Linked DNA regions of Homo sapiens. The protein of the gene in region 1 interacts with the protein of each later gene in a biochemical or structural test. Each region holds a gene or a part of one and is shown on either strand. Other genes may lie near its edges.

Evidence for each region.
Region 2: the proteins of RPS6KA1 (region 1) and HTRA1 interact in a test that uses a peptide from one of them, tested with the Homo sapiens proteins (2 studies listed by BioGRID and IntAct, with this or other methods).
Region 3: the proteins of RPS6KA1 (region 1) and PDZRN3 interact in a test that uses a peptide from one of them, tested with the Homo sapiens proteins (2 studies listed by BioGRID and IntAct, with this or other methods).
Region 4: the proteins of RPS6KA1 (region 1) and MAST1 interact in a test that uses a peptide from one of them, tested with the Homo sapiens proteins (2 studies listed by BioGRID and IntAct, with this or other methods).

Annotation. Positions count from the first base shown.
Region 1 is NC_000001.11:26,535,400-26,540,384, reverse strand, and holds part of RPS6KA1 (ribosomal protein S6 kinase alpha-1), read right to left. Parts: intron 3,461-4,985; coding exon 3,416-3,460; intron 1-3,415. UniProt on the Homo sapiens protein: Serine/threonine-protein kinase that acts downstream of ERK (MAPK1/ERK2 and MAPK3/ERK1) signaling and mediates mitogenic and stress-induced activation of the transcription factors CREB1, ETV1/ER81 and NR4A1/NUR77, regulates translation through RPS6 and EIF4B phosphorylation, and mediates cellular proliferation, survival, and differentiation by modulating mTOR signaling and repressing pro-apoptotic function of BAD and DAPK1.
Region 2 is NC_000010.11:122,459,674-122,464,462, forward strand, and holds the start of HTRA1 (serine protease HTRA1 precursor), read left to right. Parts: upstream 1-1,879; 5' UTR 1,880-1,979; coding exon 1,980-2,451; intron 2,452-4,789. UniProt on the Homo sapiens protein: Serine protease with a variety of targets, including extracellular matrix proteins such as fibronectin. HTRA1-generated fibronectin fragments further induce synovial cells to up-regulate MMP1 and MMP3 production.
Region 3 is NC_000003.12:73,622,032-73,626,573, forward strand, and holds the start of PDZRN3 (E3 ubiquitin-protein ligase PDZRN3), read right to left. Parts: upstream 2,911-4,542; 5' UTR 2,795-2,910; coding exon 2,072-2,794; intron 1,935-2,071; exon of another isoform or gene 1,537-1,934; intron 1-1,536. UniProt on the Homo sapiens protein: E3 ubiquitin-protein ligase. Plays an important role in regulating the surface level of MUSK on myotubes. Mediates the ubiquitination of MUSK, promoting its endocytosis and lysosomal degradation. Might contribute to terminal myogenic differentiation.
Region 4 is NC_000019.10:12,851,584-12,855,624, reverse strand, and holds part of MAST1 (microtubule-associated serine/threonine-protein kinase 1), read right to left. Parts: intron 3,692-4,041; coding exon 3,590-3,691; intron 3,511-3,589; coding exon 3,378-3,510; intron 3,366-3,377; exon of another isoform or gene 3,298-3,365; coding exon 3,230-3,297; intron 1-3,229. UniProt on the Homo sapiens protein: Microtubule-associated protein essential for correct brain development. Appears to link the dystrophin/utrophin network with microtubule filaments via the syntrophins. Phosphorylation of DMD or UTRN may modulate their affinities for associated proteins.

The DNA.
Region 1 (4,985 bases):
TGTGACCAAGGGGCTTAAGGCCAGGAGGGTAGAGTGGGAAGTCAGGAAGAGCTGGCCACTCACTAGCTGGGTGCTCCCGGGCAAATCTGTTTCCCTGTCTGAACCTCGGTTTCCTCCTCTGTAAAATGAAGGTTAGAACAATATGCTCCACTCTCAGATTGTTTCTAGAAGCAAAATGGGCCACAGAGACAAGGGGATGTTGGAAACAGAACTTCTCCCAGGTTTACTTAGTCTTACTGCTGTGGGGTCTCCCCTGGGCAGGCTGAAGGGACAGAGCCCAGCCACAGGGCCCCAGGTACTAGGAGGGTGGCTGGCCTTCTCTGACCAGGCCAAGGGAAGTTCCTCCCAACACCTGAGGCTGCCCAAGGCTCCCTGAAGTCCACAGTCACATCCTGCCTAAGCTCTGGCCAGGGGAGCATGAGGGATCCGGGAGGGATCAGGGTTTCATAAACAGGAAGAGAGGAGGGGAGGGGAGACGCTCAGCTCTCAAAATAGACCTGCAGGCGCTTCAAAGGGGTCCAGCTCCGGAGATAGCTGGGGGAGGGGGCCTGGGATGCCCAGTCCACTCCCAGAAGGGAGGGAGGGCAAATGGAGCCCCGGTGTGCCTTAGGGTACCACGTGCACCTAGGTGCTGAGGGGATCCAGAGAGTTCTCACCCTGGATGGCTATCCACACTATTGCTGCTAAAAGCCAAATCCCAAATCCCAAATCCCGCTTTCTGCCTGAAATGAATAAAATAAACAAGCATTAAACAGCAACATTGTGCCACAAGCCCTGTTAGATACTTTAATTTATATGTACCACATTCTCTTTTCCAGGTAGCCCTGAGAAATAGGCTTTATTCTCCTTTCATTTTTCAGGAAAGAACCCGAGCCTCAGCAAGGCAAATGACTTGCCCAAGGTTACAAGGCAAATAAAAAATAGGTGCAGGATTCTGAACTCAGAATCCCTGACTCTCTTCCCTGCCTCTTTGCCACCTGGAAGGCCCAATTCTTTCTCCAGCTGCCCAAATCCTGCCTTTTGAGTCCCAGCCAAATGCCAGTTCCGCAGGGAACATGGCCTGTGCCCTAGAGCCCACCCCAACTCTTCTTCCTCGGCCATGCACGGCAATGACCATGTCTCTGGTCCACACTCAGCCCTGAACTCAGATGCCATCAGCTGGGTTCCCGGGGACGTGCTCATCTCGTCATGCTACGGAGAGAAATGTGGGCACCTGGAAGGTGGTGGTATACGTCTCTGCCCAACATGGGCCTAGCACAGAGCAGAGGTTCTATGTGCCCACAGCTGTGCTCTTGCCCCATCATAGCGCCTACCACATGGCTTTCCTGTCTCTACCCTCTGCCCAAAGATTGGAAGCTTCTCGAAGGTGGGGGATATTGACTTCATTTTAGGCCCTCCTGTGAACAACAGGGTGCACCGAATGTCTGATTAGGATAAAGTGGCCCATTGCCAGCTCATTCCACTGCACAAAGTGATGAGGTCCGGACCACAGGTTGAGCGCCCCCTGGTGTATTAAGCCCAGAAGTGGGCATTAGGGACACTGGTGGCTGGGACAACAGATGGATGAGCAGGTGCCCAGGACTGGTCCCACTTGGAATCACAGAAAGCCAGTGCTCCTCCTCTTCAGCACTCAGGGTTCTCTGGACTATGAGGAATGACCTTGAAGCCAAACAAGACTTGTCTTCATTGCCCACCAGCTATGTGATGTTGAACCTCAATTTTCTCATCTGTAAAATGGGGACAGTAACAATCTACCTCCAAGGATGTAGTTAGAACTAAATGCAAAGCACCTGGTATGATGCTAGGCATAGGTTAAGCTCTTTCTCTTCCTTAAGTGGCATTCGAGACTCCATGTCCCATCCATCTCCAGCCCTGTCTCTCTTCCTACCCCAGGATCTTCTGCTCTAGAGCAAGAGTCATAGGCTTGGGAGCAAAAGGTTACCTGCCTCGGCAAGCTCCTGCCATCTCCCAGTAAGCTCCTCCAGTTCTTGAGGTGAGAAGCTGTACTCAGCACAGGTCCCTAAATGCTGCAAGCTCCTCTGCAACCCCCAGAACCTCAGCCCTGAGATCTGAACACCGTGTTTCTTCACTGGGAACCTACAGTTCTTCATTTTGTTACTAGGCAACAAGAGGTAGCTACTTTGTGGGAGGAGATTCTGCAGACATGGGCTGAGCTAAACCAAGGGGCCCAGTCCACACTATTTACTGGCCTCTGCTGGTCCAAGGTTGCCACAGCAACCCACAGAGAAGTGGTGCGAGAATACTTCCCTCACCTGCCCTATCCTACCCAGCTCAGTCACCTCATCTTAGGAAGCTGAGTCAAGGTAAACATCAGGACTAATCCTGCATCCATCTCAAAGGTCAAGCTTATGGCAGGTCTGGTGTTCAAGCCAACCTAGGTCTGGAAGGTGGGGTCACTGGCAGGAAGCTGAGCTGAGCAATATACTAGGACATTTTCGGTGCTGGCACCGAAGCTGCCATGTGCCAGGCAGTTACTATCTCATCGTCCTTCACATTGCTCCTGTGAGACAGACACTGTTTCCCCAACTTACAGCTCAGGAAACTGAGACTCAGAAGGGAGAAGAGCTTCTGGTTAAATGGTGGGGATGGAGCCAGGACTGGAACCCGGATTTGCTCTAACACCATGCTCTGTCCCTGCCTAAGCAGCTTCCAAAGACCCTCCATAGCCAGCATCTCCTGTGACCTCACAGCCACCCTGTGAAGGGGATGTGGTCTTTTCCAATATACAGATGAGAAAGCCAAGGCCCAGAGTGTACAAGGAACCTCCCCAAGGTCACACCACTGTCACCTAGTCCTGGTGCTTCTGGCAAAACACAAAACCAGCAACAGGGGCTAGGGGGCTACAGGAAGGGGCCCAGGGGAAGCAGAGATAGCAGGGGTGAGGGAATGACCCTCACACTGGGAAGTGGAAGCCCTAAGAAATGCCATGAGTGCCACATGCCAGGCAATGGGCCTGGTTAGCCTTGAGCGGCCACCAGCACCCCCTTTCCAGCTCACGTGCCCAGATGCTCACTTCCAGGCTCTTGGCAAGCGCAGCTCTACCAAAAGGAGCAGGACAGCTGGCCTGAGCCCCTCCCATCACTCCTTAGAGCCAGCCCAAATTCCATGAGTAAATAAACTGCAGGGGCATCCTGGCCTGGGTGACAGGTAACCAGAGCCCTGACCTGGATTCTGCTCCTGACCCTTTCTGGGCCACAGTCGCCTCACCTACAAAATAGGAAGGTTGGAACAAGTGATTTCTATGCCCAGGGTTGCCACAAGGATTCGGTGGGCCCTGAGAAGGACGGCTGAGTTGGGCAAAGGGGCTAGAGGCTGGAGCCCTCAACCTCCTCCAAAGCCATGCAAACAGGATCCCCCACAGCCCCTCGCTCAGGGTGCTGGCCATGGTCCTCACCTTGGACGGCTGAAGTCCAGCTTCTTCCCCTGAGGTCTGTCCATTCTGGAAAAGAGAAAGGAGATTGGGGGAGCACTGTCAGAACTTACACGCTTGGGAGAAAGACTCTGTGGGGCACCCCCACCCTTAGGTGCTCCCAATAGCCATGGAGGCCATGGTGGTAGGGCAGGAGTCCTGGGTGGGTCCCTCCACCTCCACTTTCATGGTGTAGGCACAGGGACCAAGTATTCTGGCAATGGCGCCTCATGACTCAGGCAGAATATTCCCAGGGACCAGCATTCTGACCCTCATGCTGTCTGCCTGGCAAACACTTCATCTCTGAAGACTTAGTTCAAATGTCACCTCCTCCCAGGGAGAAGGGAAGGGTCATGTGTGGCTTCCAGCTCTACCAGATACAAACCTTGTACAAACTAGTCAACTGTGAGAGGACTCAGTTTCCCCATCTGTAACATGGGGTGGGGTAGTTACACTGACTTCCCAGAGTTGCTGCAAGGGTGGAAGGAGACAAAGTCTGGGAAAGCATGCAACCCAGAGATGGTGGCTATCCTTGCCCTGCCCCACTCTGGGACCCCTCCCCTGACCTTGCCAGGCAGAATGACTGCTGCCTCCACTTCAGCCTTCATTGTAGCACTTGTCCCACTGCAGGGACTATTTACACACAGGCCTGCCCTTCCTAATAAATGGGGAGTCCCACGAGGGCAGAGACGAGGGCTTGGGGCTAACAGCTGCTCTCTTCCAAGCCTCTGCCACATGGCAGGCACTGGGCTCAGTGCCTCGCACCTGTGGCACCACTTTTTTTTTTTTTTTTTTTTTTTTTAGACAGAGTTTTGCTCTGTTGCTGAGGCTGGAGTGCAGTAGTGCAATCGCAGCTCACTGCAACCTCCGCCTCCCAGGTTCAAGCGATTCTCCTGCCTCAGCCTCCCAAGTAGCTGGGATTACAGGCGTACGCCACCATGCCCGGCTAATTTTTGTATTTTTTTTAGTAGACACGGGGTTTCACCACGTTGGCCAGGCTGGTCTCAAACTCCTGACCTCAGGTGATCCGCCCGCCTCGGCCTCCCAAAGTGCTGGGATTACAGGTGTGAGCCACTGCGCCTGGCCCCTGTGGCACCATTTAATCCTCATGACAGCCCTGGGAGGTAGGCCCTGGCCCCATGTGGCAGAGAAGGAAACTGAGGCTCTGAGGGGACCTAGTGATGATGCCTATGGTCACACAACTGGTGAGTGGGGATTCAAAATCTGGTCCCAAATCCAGGAGGTGCTCCAAACAGGTCAGCTGAGAAACAGCCCAGAGCCCAGAGCCCCCCTCTGGTCAGTCTTGCCTTTTCCAGCCCCCAGACTTCACTCTCAGGTGGTTATTAAATATGCTGGGGTGTGTCAAACCCAGCCCATCTGTTTCCTGTGTGATGTGAGGCAAGTAACCTACCCTATCTGGGCGTTTGGAAGCTGAAAGAAATTGCCCCACCCCTCCTAGAACAGGGAGAGTGTGGTGAGGCAGACAGGAGGTTCCCAACAGCTAGGAAGGCCTGCTCTAGAACAGGTCTGGATCTGGACTTTGGAGCCAGGAGCT
Region 2 (4,789 bases), on another chromosome or scaffold:
ATTCCCCAACAGGGAAAGAGCCTAGAAACTCCCTCCACCTCCCGCAAAGCAGTGGGGAAGTTGCGGCCACACTGTTTTCGGTCCGCTCATTCCCTCTGCAGTCTGGCTGCTCAGGGGGATGGAGGAGGATGGGGCTTGCAGGCAGGCACAGCCGGTTTGGAAGGTGTCCTGGCTCCAGCACTCAACTTGTGGCATGACACTCAGGGGAGTCACCCTTTCTGGCCCTCAGTTTTCTCCTCTGTAAAATAAGGAAATTCGACAAAAATAAGTTATCACCAATTTATTCACCACCACGTGTCCTTTTAATTCCATCTGCCCCAGGACTGCAGTGGGGAGTCTTTCTTTGCCGATGGACTTCGAAAATCATCACCCCCCGCATTTTTTGTGGTTAACCACAGCTAGCCAGGAACTCAGGGCTTCTCATCAGCAGAGGCCTCTGCCTCTCCAGTATCCAGGGCCGAATGGATTTTGGGTCAAGGCCTCCCTCCCGCAGCCAGGAGGCCCTGGCTTTATGGAATATCGCTTGGAGTCCAGGGAGTCAGCATGGGGACCCCGACAGCTTTCCCATGCCCCAGGCTCCTGGGCCTTTCTGGGGGACCCCTCTGGACCTTGGGCATTAACAAGGTTCATATTTGGAAGGTGCTTTGAGGGGGCTTATAGGTATTTGGAGTTTACTTTTTAAACTATTTGTATTGGAAAAATAACGTGTGCACAAGGGAACAACCCAAATACAGAAGAATATTAAAATCCCCAAGCCCCCAGCCCCCTCCCATGCTACTCTATCCCAAAGTCAGCTCTGCCGGCTCACCCAACCCTGGGTGCCTCTGCCCAGGGTGGGGGTGGAGGTTTGAGGGTTCGGGATGAGGGCTGGACGAAGGGCCTCCTCTCAGGTCCTTGGACACGAGCTGTGCCCATCTGCTCAGTGTGGACCCAGGACTACTGCCCACAGGCCTGGTGCTGCCTGGGCACCCAGACCCACCTCCAGGGTCGCCCTCAGCCCTCCTGATGACTCTCGGACTCGCATCTGTCCCAACGGATGCACCAAAGATTCTCCAGTGGGAAATCAAATTTTTGATAACAAGTGTTTTGAAATAATCACGCACTTGGTGAAAAATCAAAAGAGGGGAAAACCCCTTTCCCATCTGAGACCGCTCCACCCTCGCCAGTTACGAGCTGCCGAGCCGCTTCCTAGGCTCTCTGCGAATACGGACACGCATGCCACCCACAACAACTTTTTAAAAGAATCAGACGTGTGAAGGATTCTATTCGAATTACTTCTGCTCTCTGCTTTTATCACTTCACTGTGGGTCTGGGCGCGGGCTTTCTGCCAGCTCCGCGGACGCTGCCTTCGTCCGGCCGCAGAGGCCCCGCGGTCAGGGTCCCGCGTGCGGGGTACCGGGGGCAGAACCAGCGCGTGACCGGGGTCCGCGGTGCCGCAACGCCCCGGGTCTGCGCAGAGGCCCCTGCAGTCCCTGCCCGGCCCAGTCCGAGCTTCCCGGGCGGGCCCCCAGTCCGGCGATTTGCAGGAACTTTCCCCGGCGCTCCCACGCGAAGCCGCCGCAGGGCCCCCTTGCAAAGTTCCATTAGTTTGAAGGACGCGAATCTCAGCGAGAGAACCTGCGGAAAGCGAATATGTGGGGCGCGCAGACGGGGAAACTGAGTCCCGCGAGAGGGCCGGCCTGTGCGCTGCCCCGCCCGCGCCCCGCCAGCACCGCCGTGCCCGGGCGCGCCCGCCCTGCCCCCTCCGCGGGCGGTCCCGGTCCAGCCGCCCGCCCTCCCTCCCGCCATCCGGCCAGCCCCCATCCCGGGCGCCGTGCCCGTCCCCAAGGCGGCTCGTCACCGCTGCGAGGCCAATGGGCTGGGCCGCGCGGCCGCGCGCACTCGCACCCGCTGCCCCCGAGGCCCTCCTGCACTCTCCCCGGCGCCGCTCTCCGGCCCTCGCCCTGTCCGCCGCCACCGCCGCCGCCGCCAGAGTCGCCATGCAGATCCCGCGCGCCGCTCTTCTCCCGCTGCTGCTGCTGCTGCTGGCGGCGCCCGCCTCGGCGCAGCTGTCCCGGGCCGGCCGCTCGGCGCCTTTGGCCGCCGGGTGCCCAGACCGCTGCGAGCCGGCGCGCTGCCCGCCGCAGCCGGAGCACTGCGAGGGCGGCCGGGCCCGGGACGCGTGCGGCTGCTGCGAGGTGTGCGGCGCGCCCGAGGGCGCCGCGTGCGGCCTGCAGGAGGGCCCGTGCGGCGAGGGGCTGCAGTGCGTGGTGCCCTTCGGGGTGCCAGCCTCGGCCACGGTGCGGCGGCGCGCGCAGGCCGGCCTCTGTGTGTGCGCCAGCAGCGAGCCGGTGTGCGGCAGCGACGCCAACACCTACGCCAACCTGTGCCAGCTGCGCGCCGCCAGCCGCCGCTCCGAGAGGCTGCACCGGCCGCCGGTCATCGTCCTGCAGCGCGGAGCCTGCGGCCAAGGTACTCCGCCGCGCTCCTGGGCAGCTCCCCACTCTCTCCATCCCAGCTCGGACCTGCTTCTGCGGGACTGGTGGGCAGGTTGAGGGGCAGCGAAGCGTTGTGGGGTGGCCAGGGCAACTCTCGGGGACAGGCAGGTGGGCCCCGGGGTGGCGGATTTCCGCGGGCTGCCTCGGAACCGAGCTTCGCGCCCAGCCCGGGGCCGGTTCTGCGCCCAGACGATGCCAGTACGCCCGGCCTGCACTCTGGGGCTCGAGACGCCGGGCGACCGGCCATGGAGTGCCCTGAGGGCAACCACACAGCGCGGGGACCCCAGGACAAATAAGAGGAATGGGGGCATAAAGGAAGGAGAGAAGTTCAGGACTGGGAATTGGCGCCTCGCAGAGCGGCTTCAGGACCACAAGAAGTCATTTCGGTTGCTTTTTCTTCTATTTACGTCCTCCGTCCCCTTTAAAATTCACTGCTTTGATCACGGGACCGCTCAGTGAAAACTGTATGTAACTCTTTTGGAAAGGAACAGTGTTTGCCGGCCCGCCCCGGAGTTTCTCCAAAAAGTCTACCCCGAGCAGGGAACGGTTTGGCACCGCTCTCGTTTCGGCGGCGTTGCTGCCTGTCTTGCTTTCCTCGTTTTGAGCCAGCCCTACAAAAATGAAAGTGGCTCCTTTTGAATAAGCTGAATCGGGCTTTGGATCACGAAATCTGCAGAGGCGGAGAAGGGACCGGGTTAGTGATGAGGAAGAAGTCTACCCCTCTGTTCCTACAGCCGCACACAGGACCTGTTCTGGCAGGGGAGACGGTGGTGATGGGGGAAGGAGTGGAATGGAGCAATGTCTAACTCTCTCGCGGGACCTTCCGGAGAGATGCTCCTCATCTTCAGGCAGAGGCCATGTGGAAAAATAATATCGAGTTCAGCAGCGGCCAGCCCCGCGTTGTAGGAACCAGACAGCGGGGCTTGGCAGTGCGCTTGGGCGCAGCCGTGCCGCTGCTGCCGGACCCCAGTGCTGCCTCCTCAACACGGGCAGTGCCAGGAGAGGGGCATAGGGGAGCACAGTGCAGAGGGACTGGTCTAGAGTTTACTTTATAGGAATATGGTTCGGTGTGACCAACTAGGGCTTAGCATAGTTTGGCTTACGTGGACGGGAAGATGCCAGAGCCGAACTGGGTGAAATTCGAGATTGCGTATTTCACCAACACAGGAGCACAGCCCTCGGGAAACTCAGCCTAGTCAGGCAGTAGAGAGTTGTCCCGGAGAGAAGTGATCCTGCAGACTCGAGAAGGGGCATGATGATAGCACACGTCTGTTGAGCACCCAGTCTGTGTGCCGGGTGTGTTACCTCTGTGACCTCATTTGGTCAAACGAGGAGGCAGTTGCTCCTCTCTCTCTCTTTTTTTTTCTTAAGAGACAGGGTCTCCCTCTGTCGCCCATGCTGGAGTGTAGTGGTGTGATCATGGCTCACTGCAGCCTCCGACCCCTGGGCTCAATGATTCTCCTGCTTCAGCCTCCCAAGTGGCTGGGACTACAGGCGGATGCCACCACACCCAGCTTCTCATTCCCGTTTTACAGATAGCGGAGCTAAGGTTGAAAAACTTGCCCAAGGTCATTCAGCTGGAATTTAAACCCAGACAGCCTCATTCAGAGGAGTCAGCCCAGCACTTAACTCCAAGGGTGTGGGAGAGGGGTCAGGTGCTGTAAATTTCCTGGTGGGCTGGACGTGCATCCCCCTCAGAGCTGGGAACAGCATACACAAAGCCTAAGACTTGTTTGGAGGTGAATAGATCAGTGTGGCTGGGGAACGTTTTGGGAGGGCAGCAGGAGTGAGCCAGGCTGGTGGCCCAGAGTCCCAGGGCTGAAGAGGCTGGCTGTGCCCCGTGCCCTGTGCGCAGATGTTCTTGAACTGGAGCAACTCAAAGCCTAGTGTAGTGTAGGGCTGACCTAGCAGTGGAGTGCGGAATGCATCCAGGGTGGAGAGTTTAGACTACTGCAATAATCTGGGTGTGAGGCGACAACATTGAAAAAGCATGTTTTTGTCCAAAACAAGCCAGCTGTTACTGGTCTCGCTGTTTGTGGTCTCATCGCACGGGGTCCTGAGTTGCTGGCACCATGCGAGCCGCCTAATTTATTGCTAGTGAGGCAAGTTGCTTAACAAGTTTTGGAGTTGGCTGAGTCCCTGTGTGGAGGAAAACAGGTCCCCCATTGGCCATCGGGCTCACAGCGGGCCCCCGGTGTACCAGTGAGGGGACAGCCACAGAGGGATAAGCATGGTGGCTTTGAAAGGAGGGAGAGACAGAGTGGGTACAATGCTTTTCTTATCCCTCCCTCCTTCTTTTGCAAATATTTATT
Region 3 (4,542 bases), on another chromosome or scaffold:
CGTCACTTAAAACGACGAAGGAAGTCCAGATGACAGCATAAACAGCAGAAACTCGGGAACTCCTTCACCCTAAATCTGGCGCCTGATTGAAGACCAAGCTTTGCCCTCTGTTTTGGTGATTCGAAGGCTCACACCAGTCTTTTGTGTGCCTGTGAGGTCCTGGGCAAGCTGTGGAGCTGTAAATATTTGCCCTTCGCCCAGAGCTGGCCAGCTGCTGAGACTGCAGCTGACAGACAGGCCAGGGGCCAGGAAGGGGGGCCAGGTCGGAAAACTTGCAGGCCTGGTGTGCACGTAAGGAAAGGGGGCTGGGAGAGGGCAGAGAGAGGCAAAGCAGACACAGGCCCTTGGGGGAGCCTCGGGCAAATATTTTCCCCTTTCTGCCACACCATCTGGAGCAGGCAACCAGAGCGGTGGCAGCAGGCCCAGGCCCCTCCCCAGGAAGGCAGAAGTACCCAGCTGTTGAAAATGTGGCTTCTGCAATCAGGGAAACCAGTGGTTCTCAACCTGGGCGACTTTGCCCCTCCAGAGGACACTTGACAATATTTGGATTGTCACGACTTGGGAGGGAGGCCAAGAATGCTGCTAAACATCCTACAATGCACAGCACAGTACCTCCCCTCCCAACTAAGAGTTATGGGGCCCAAAATGCCAATATGCCCCAAAACTGAGAACTCTGAGGTAGAATCTGAGTCCGGCTCTGCTCCCTGAGTCACTACTTAATTTTGGACAAGTTATATAACTTCTCTGAGTCTGTTCCCTCATCTCAAAGGACAACATAGGTAATGCATGTAAAGTACTTCCTATTGTTGGTGGCACTTAATAAACACTCAATAAATGGTCCTTGTGGTTGCACTGAGGAGCAACATGATAGTTTATAGAACGTGGGCTGGAAAGATGGGCACGCAAAGGTTCAACATGCAGCTTTGCACCCAAAAGCTGTGACCCAGGCATGAAACTGCCCCTTAATGAGCCTCAGTTTTTTCATCTACTAAGTGGGAAGGGTCACACCAACCTCACTTGATTAAAAAGGAAATGACTGGGAAGAATGCAGCACCCAGCCTGGAGCAAAGTAAACCCTCGCTCAAGGGGACCGCTCAGGTGGAGATGTTAAAAATAATTCTAGGTAACACTTGTTGAGCATTTATTTACTCTCTGCCAGGCACAGTACGAGGCCCTTCTACTAAACTCTCTCCCTGAAGCCTGACAAAAACCTTTCGCACTGAGGGAAACTGAGGGATCTGGGAATTAAGCCAGAAGCTCACCCAGCTGGTCAGCAAAAAGCCCAGATTTGAAAACAGTTTTAACTCCAGAGGACTCACACTTAATTATTACTTTATACTTGTTGGGGGCAGAGTGCTCCTTTAATTCTTTCTGAAATCCCTGGATGAATACCTCAGGGGTGCCTGGCTGTGTTTTTACTCTGTATACCACGTCTCTAGGGACCATAGTTTCCAACTTTAGAGAGGTTAAGCAGCTTGCTCAAGGTCAGCCAGCTAGTTGGCTGCAAAGCCCACGCTTGCATCCAGCTTTTACCCCAGAGGCCTCTCTTCTGATATCCTTCTTAACTTAATCTACACTGGCTGTGGGTTCCCTTTATTTTTTTTTCTGGAATCCTAGAGGATGCACGGATACAATTCACCCAATGTGTCCATCTCTCCTCTCCTAAGTGTCAGTCTATAGGTTTCTGACCTCTAGAGGGTAAGCAACTTGCCCGAGATCCCCTAGCTGGTCTGAGCAGCAAAGCCTTTGAACGCAGTTTTGACTCTGGAGCTGCATTCTTCATTCTTATCCTACACTTGCTTGTGAATTCTTTTTCGTCCTTCCAGAATCCCTGAAGCTGTACAGCTATACTTTACCGGTTACGTCTAGACTATAAAGGACCACAGTGTTCCACCTCAGGCAGGTTCAGCGACCTGCAAGTAGTGATACAGCTGGTAAGCAGTGGAAGAAGAGGGAGGAAGCAAGGATGTTCCCGGGAAGCTCGGGGCATCCCTGTACCCAAAGGGATGGGGCGGGGCCCTGGGTCCCCAGGGATCCTGGCTGGAGGTCGGGGCGGGCAGCAGGCGCCTACCTTGCCGCCGGGCGGCGCGGCCACGCAGCGGCTGAGCGAGTCGAGGCGCGCGCTGTATTCGGTGAATTTCTTCTGGTAGCGCAGCGCGGTCATCTGCAGCTCAAGCTGCGCCGCGGCCAGCTGGGCCACCAGCGACTTCTCGCGCTTCCCAGCGCGCAGCGCCTCCTTCTTGAGCGCCTTGTGCAGCGCGCCCAGGCGGGCCTGGAGCGCGCCGTTGTGCGCCCGCAGCGCTCGCGCGCAGCAGTGGCCGCCCGCGCGCTGCTCGCCGTGCGTCAAGGGTAGCCCGCAGCCCTCCTGGCAGCGGCCCACTGGCCGCGCGTCGCAGGCGTCGCGCATGTGCGCCTCCACGTCGCGCCGCAGCAGCACCTGGCCGCAACCCGCGTGGCGACAGCGCGCGGGCGCGAAGTCGCAGCGCTCGAGGTGCTCCGGCAGCTGCTGCAGCTTGACCACCCGGCCGCAGCCGCGCGTCGCGTACGCGCACTTGATGTCCAGCTTGAGGATAAGGCGCTTGAGCGGCAGGACGTGGTTGAGCTCTTTGGCCGACAGGCGACCGCGGCAGCGCGCCGGGCAGCTGCCCTCCTGCACCACCCAGGGCAGCACGCAGCCGGCGCAGAAGACGTGGCCGCACGGCGTGGTCAGCGGGTCCTCCAGGACCTTGTGGCACAGCGCGCACTTCAGGTCCGGGTCCACGTCGCCGTCGAAGCGGTCCAGCTCGAAGCCCATGGTGGCGGCCAGGCCCCGGGGTCGCCGCCGGGCGGCCGGGCGCCCCCTCCCTCCCCACGAGGCGGCCCAGACAGGCCGGCTACGCCGCCCGCGCGCTCGCTGGCTCTCCCCGGACTGAGCCTAATTGATCCAGACTTCCTCGGAAAATGCCCGAGGAACAGGACTCCTCCGGCCGTATTTGCGCGAGCGCGAGCGCACATACATCGTGCCTTGGATGCCTCCCGCCAGCCCCCCGAAAAAGGGAGGAGGCTGGAAGGCAGAAGCGCGTGGGAGGACACTGAGGCTCGCCAGAAGGGACGGGCCAGCCCAGGACGCCAGCCTGAATCTTCTCGGGAAACTCCTTTCTGTTCTCTTACAGTCTACGCTATAGGAGACAAAACGCCAGCCGAGAAAAGCTCGCTGAGTTTGGAGCTGAGGCTACTGCTTTCTCCCAAGGGTTCTCTTCGAGCCCCTTCCCGAACGGATCAAAACTTTTTTACTCCCTTCTCCCTCCCCCTTCCTCTAGTGGCTGATTGCAGAGGACTAAAAATATCTTGGGGCCCGCTATCTCAGCACTTACGGTCTTTATTTATTTATTTCATTCCAGGGAAAGTTACAGAGCCTGCGGGAAGCTCCGGCTGCAACTTCAGTTCTGACCAGAGGTTCTGTGAACCTTCAGGATTTAGCAGGTTTCCAGGACCGGTGGGTGAATCTACCCGGGGAAGTTTTGGTGGACAAGAGCTGCTCGCCAGCTGTCGGAGTGGGAGAGGCCAGCGTGCTGGCTCCATCCACTTCACCTAACACCTCTGAAGTGTCTGCCCTGCAGTGTGGCAAGCGTGGTGCTGAGCGCTTCTAAATCCGTCGCTTTAAAGATCATTAGTACAATGTTGTGAGAGGGTTAGCTCCATTTGAAAATTATTTTCCCGTGATTACAAAAGAAGCGATGCTGACTGCAGAAGTTAGAACTGGGAGAAGACTCATCACCCCCATGATCATGTCAACAACTGCCCTCCTTCAGTTTTGGTTTGTTTTGTGTGTACACTCTGTCATCTTTCCATTGAGGAAACTCAGGCTAGAAGAAGGATAAAAACAAAACAGAAAACAAAACAAAACAAAAGTGCCCTGTAGGGTCCTGTAGGTCAGTGTTTCTCACATTTTAATGTGGTTGCGGTTCTGATACAGTGGGTCTGGGGCGGGTTCTGAGAATCTCCATACTGAAAGCACTTCCAAGTGATGCCAATGCTGCTAGTCCATGCTGGTCCTTGGATTCCCACTTGATTGGAAAACCCTGGCGATCCATAGATCTGGACATTCATTCCCTGCAGTACAGCAAACCTGGCTGGGTAGGATTCAGCAACAGTCCTGAGCAATGGAGGAATATTTTTGGAATTCCAAACTGGGTGTAAAGTTCATAGCATCATCCATTGATTTTATTTTATTTTATTTTTACCTCCCAAGGCTATAGACATTCCTAAGAAACACGCAGTCAGCTTTTGGTGAGAGTGGAATCAAGCTATGGAATTCTCATTTGGAATCTGCTTCCAGTTTCTGAACAGTGAAGCGGGAGAGTTCTGAACAGTAAAGCAGGAGCTCTGTATTCAGCGAGACTCTGGGGCCTGGAAAGTGGGATTACAGCATCCATTTTGTCTAATTGCTTTCCTTCTTTCTTTTATGTGGCTGCTAAAGCCCCATGACCTTCACTATTTAACTGCTTCATCAGAGTGAAAGAATTGCCTTGATGTTCATAAGGATTACTTGTTTCACACTGA
Region 4 (4,041 bases), on another chromosome or scaffold:
CAATTTGAAATAAAGATTACAAACTTAAGCGTCTTCAGGGGCCAGTAGACCAGGGTGGAGGCCATGGATGACGAAGGGGCAGGTACCCAATATCACAGGACCACCCCCACTCAGCTGGTTCCACCACAGTATTATTAGAACTTCTTCTTCTTCTATTTTTTTTTAAGTAGAGACAGGGTCTTGCTATGTTGTCCAGACTGGTTTCAAACTCCTGGGCTCAAGCAATCCTGCCACCTTGGCTTCCCAAAGTGCTGGGACTACAGGCATGAGCCACTACACCCAGCCCTAGAACTTCTGATTTTTCAAGAGAAGGCCCAAACCCAGATTTTGAAGCAAAAATCTTTCAATTTTTATATTTTGCTTCTTTTATTTATCTATTTTTATTTTTTTCAAGATGGAGTCTCACTCTCTCACCCAGGCTGGAGTGCAGTGGTTTGATATCGGCTCACTGCAATCTTTGTCTCCCTGGTTCCAGCAGTTCTCCTGCCTCAGCCTCCCAAGTAGCTGGGATTACGGGTGGGCACCACCACACCTGGCTAATTTTATGTATTTTTTTAGTAGAGACAGGGTTTCACCATGTTGGCCAGGCTGGTCTCGACTTCCTGACCTCAAGTGATCCACCCGCCGCAGTCTCTCAAAGTGCTGGGATTACAGCCGTGAGCCATCAGGCCCAGCCCAAATTTTTGAAAAATACTAGGCAGTTCAGAGAAAACACATGTGTGGCCATTGGGGTAGGACTCTCCACTAGACATCTGGAACATCTGCCAAAGTGTGGCTGGCCTGGGAATAGAATTGGCAATTTTCCCCATGCTGAGCTGCCATTAACACATACAGCCAGTTAGCTTGCTCGAAAGCCCATGCAGGATTCCTCTATAAGTTAAACATAGAGCTACCATATGACCAAGAAATTCCACCTCTAGACGTATATCCTAAATAACTCAAAGCAGTTGTCCAGCCAAATATTTGTACACCCACATTCATAAGAGCACTATTTACAACAGATGAAAGATGGACAACCCAATGTTCACCAGTGGATGAATGCATCTACCATTCAATGGAATATTACTCGGCTATAAAAATGAATGAAGCAGTGACACAAGCTACAACATGGATAAACCTCAGAAACGTTATGTTAAGTGAAATAAGCCAGTCATAAGAGGCCACAGAGCATACGATCCCATTTATAGGAAATATCCAGAAAAAGGCCAGGCATGTGGCTCACGCCTGTAATCGCAGCACTTTGGGAGGCCAAGGCAGGCAGATCACCTGAGGTCAGGAGTTCGAGACCAGCCTGACCAACATGGTGAAACCCTGTCTTTACTAAAAATACAAAATTAGCCAGGTGTGGTGGCGCATGCCTATAATCCCAGCTACTCAGGAGGCTGAGGGAGGAGAATTGCTTGAACCTGGGAGGCGGAGGTTGCAGTGAGCCGAGATCACGCCATTGCACTCCAGCCTGGGCAACAAGAGTGAAATTCTGTCTCAAAAAAAAAAAAAAAAAGAAATATCCAGAAAAAGCAATTCCACAGAGAGAGAAAATAGATTAGTGGTTGCCAGGGACTGCAGGGAGGGAGGAATGAGGAGGGAGTGTGTAATGGGTGTGAGGTTTCCCTTTGGGGGTGATAAAAAAGTTCTGCAACTACATAGATCTAATGGCTGTACAGCATGGTGAATTACTAAATGCTGCAGAATTGTTTATTTATTACTATTAATCATTATTATTATTATTATTATTATTATTATTATTATTATTTTGAGACAGAGTCTCGCTCTGTTGCCCAGGCTGGAGTGCAGTGGTGGGATCTTGGCTCACACCAACCTCCACCTCCCGGGTTCAAGCAATTCTCCTGCCTCAGCCTTCCAAGTAGCTGGGATTACAGGCATGTGCCACCACGCCCAACTAATTTTTTTGTATTTTTAGTGGAAATGGGGTTTCACCATGTTGGCCAGGCTGGTTTCGAATTCCTGACCTCAAGTGATCCACCCATCTTGGCCTCCCAAAGTACTAGGATTACATGCATAAGCCATTGCACCTGGCCTATTCTTTATTATTTTTAATTTCATTTTTCAAGACAGGGTCTCACCCTGTTGCCCAGGCTGGAGTGCAGTGGTGTGATCATGGCTTACTGAAGCCTTGACTTCCTGGGCTCATAGGATCCTCCCACCTCAGCCTCCCGAGTAGCTGGGACTACAGGGGTGCACCACCACGCCCAGCTGATTTTTTATGCTGCCCAGGCTGGTCTCAAATGCCTTAGCACAAACAATCCTCCTGCCTTGGCCTCCCAAAGTGCTGGGATTACAGGCCTAAGCCACTGCACCCGGCCCCGAATTGTTCATTTTAAAATGGTTAAAAAGGCCGGGCGCGGTGGCTCATGCCTGTAATCCCAGCACTTTGGGAGGCCGAGATGGGCAGATCAACTGAGATTGGGAGTTTGCAACCAGCCTGACCAACATGGAGAAATTTTAGTCTCTACTAAAAATACAAAATTAGCCGGGTGTGGTGTTACATGCCTGTAATCCCAGCTACTCGGGAGGCTGAGGCAGGAGAATTGCTTGAACCCAGGAGATGGAGGTTGTGGTGAGCTGAGATAGTGCCATTGCACTCCAGCCTGGGCAACAAGAGCAAAACTCCATCTCAAAAAATAAATAAATAAATAAATAAAAATAAAATAAAATGGTTAAAAAAGTAAATTAAATTTTATGTTTCATGGATTTTAACATGACAAAGAGGTCACAGGGGAAGAGCAATTATTTTATTTTATTTTATTTTATTTTTTGAGACAGTTTCGCTCTTGTTGCCCAGGCTGGAGTGCAGTGGTGTAATCTCAGTTCACAGCAATCTCTGCCTCCTGGATTCAAGTGATTCTTCTGCCTCAGCCTCACAAGTAGCTGGGATTAGAGGCATGTGCCACCAGGCTTGGCTAATTTTTGCATTTTTTTTTTTTTTAAGTAGAAACGGGGTTTCTCCATGTTGGTTAGGCTGGTCTCGAACTCCCGACCTCAGGTGATCTGCCCACCTTGGCCTCCCAAAGTGCTGGGATTACAGGCATGAGCCAGCATGCCAGGCTCTGGAAGAGCTATTATTAATCCCATTTTATGGATGGGAAAACTGAGGCTCAGAGTGTAGGACCAAGAGATCCACAAAGCCTGAGGGCAAAGAAGCCGGAGATGAGCCCCACCCTGCCCTCCCAGGAACCAGGGTACTGACCGCTTAGCCACCCAGCCTTACCTCAGAGAGATCGTCTTGCTCAGGGGTGTTGGAACCACCACTGTCCTGTTCCTCCAGATGCACCACATCTAGGGAGGGACTGAGAGTGAGCACGAGCTGGGTTCTGGGCCTGCTCACCCCCAGTCCCCCTGCGCCCACCAGCCGGCACCTGGAAAGGGGTCACGGGTGAGGCCCAGCTGGCGGATGATGTAGCGGGGGATGTCCGTCTTCACAAGGTGGCCCTCCTTGGCGTGTCCTTCGGCCGCCTCCAGCAGGTGGTAGAACTCCTCGGGGTTGAATTCCTGAGGCAGGGCAGGAGTGGGCTCACCACAGGCTCCCAGGGTCTACCAACCCACCCCTACCCATGCCCAGCCCCCTCACCAGGCACTCCAGCAGCCTCGCAGGGCGTGAGATGATAATAAGCAACTTCTTCACCAGCTGAGTAACGAAGGCCACCTCCAAGCTCTCAGAGCGTTCATAGGCCTGTGGCAGGGGACACAGAGGGACAGGGCTCATAGGCACTCTGCCTCAGCCCGGCCCCTCTCTCAGCCCCTCAGAGTACATACTGCTGCTACTGTCCCATCTTACAGGTGAGGAGACTGAAGCCCAAGCCACACAGTAAAAATAATGAGGCTGGGCACGGTGGCTCATGCCTGTAATCCCAGCACTTTGGGAGGCTGAGGTGGGTGGATCACTTGAGGTCAAAAGTTTGAAACCAGCCTGGCCAACATGGTGAAACCCCATCTCCACTAAAAACGCAAAATGAGCCAGGCGTGGTGGCAGGTGCCTGTAATCCCAGCTACTTGGGAGGCTGAAGCAGGAGAATCCCTTGA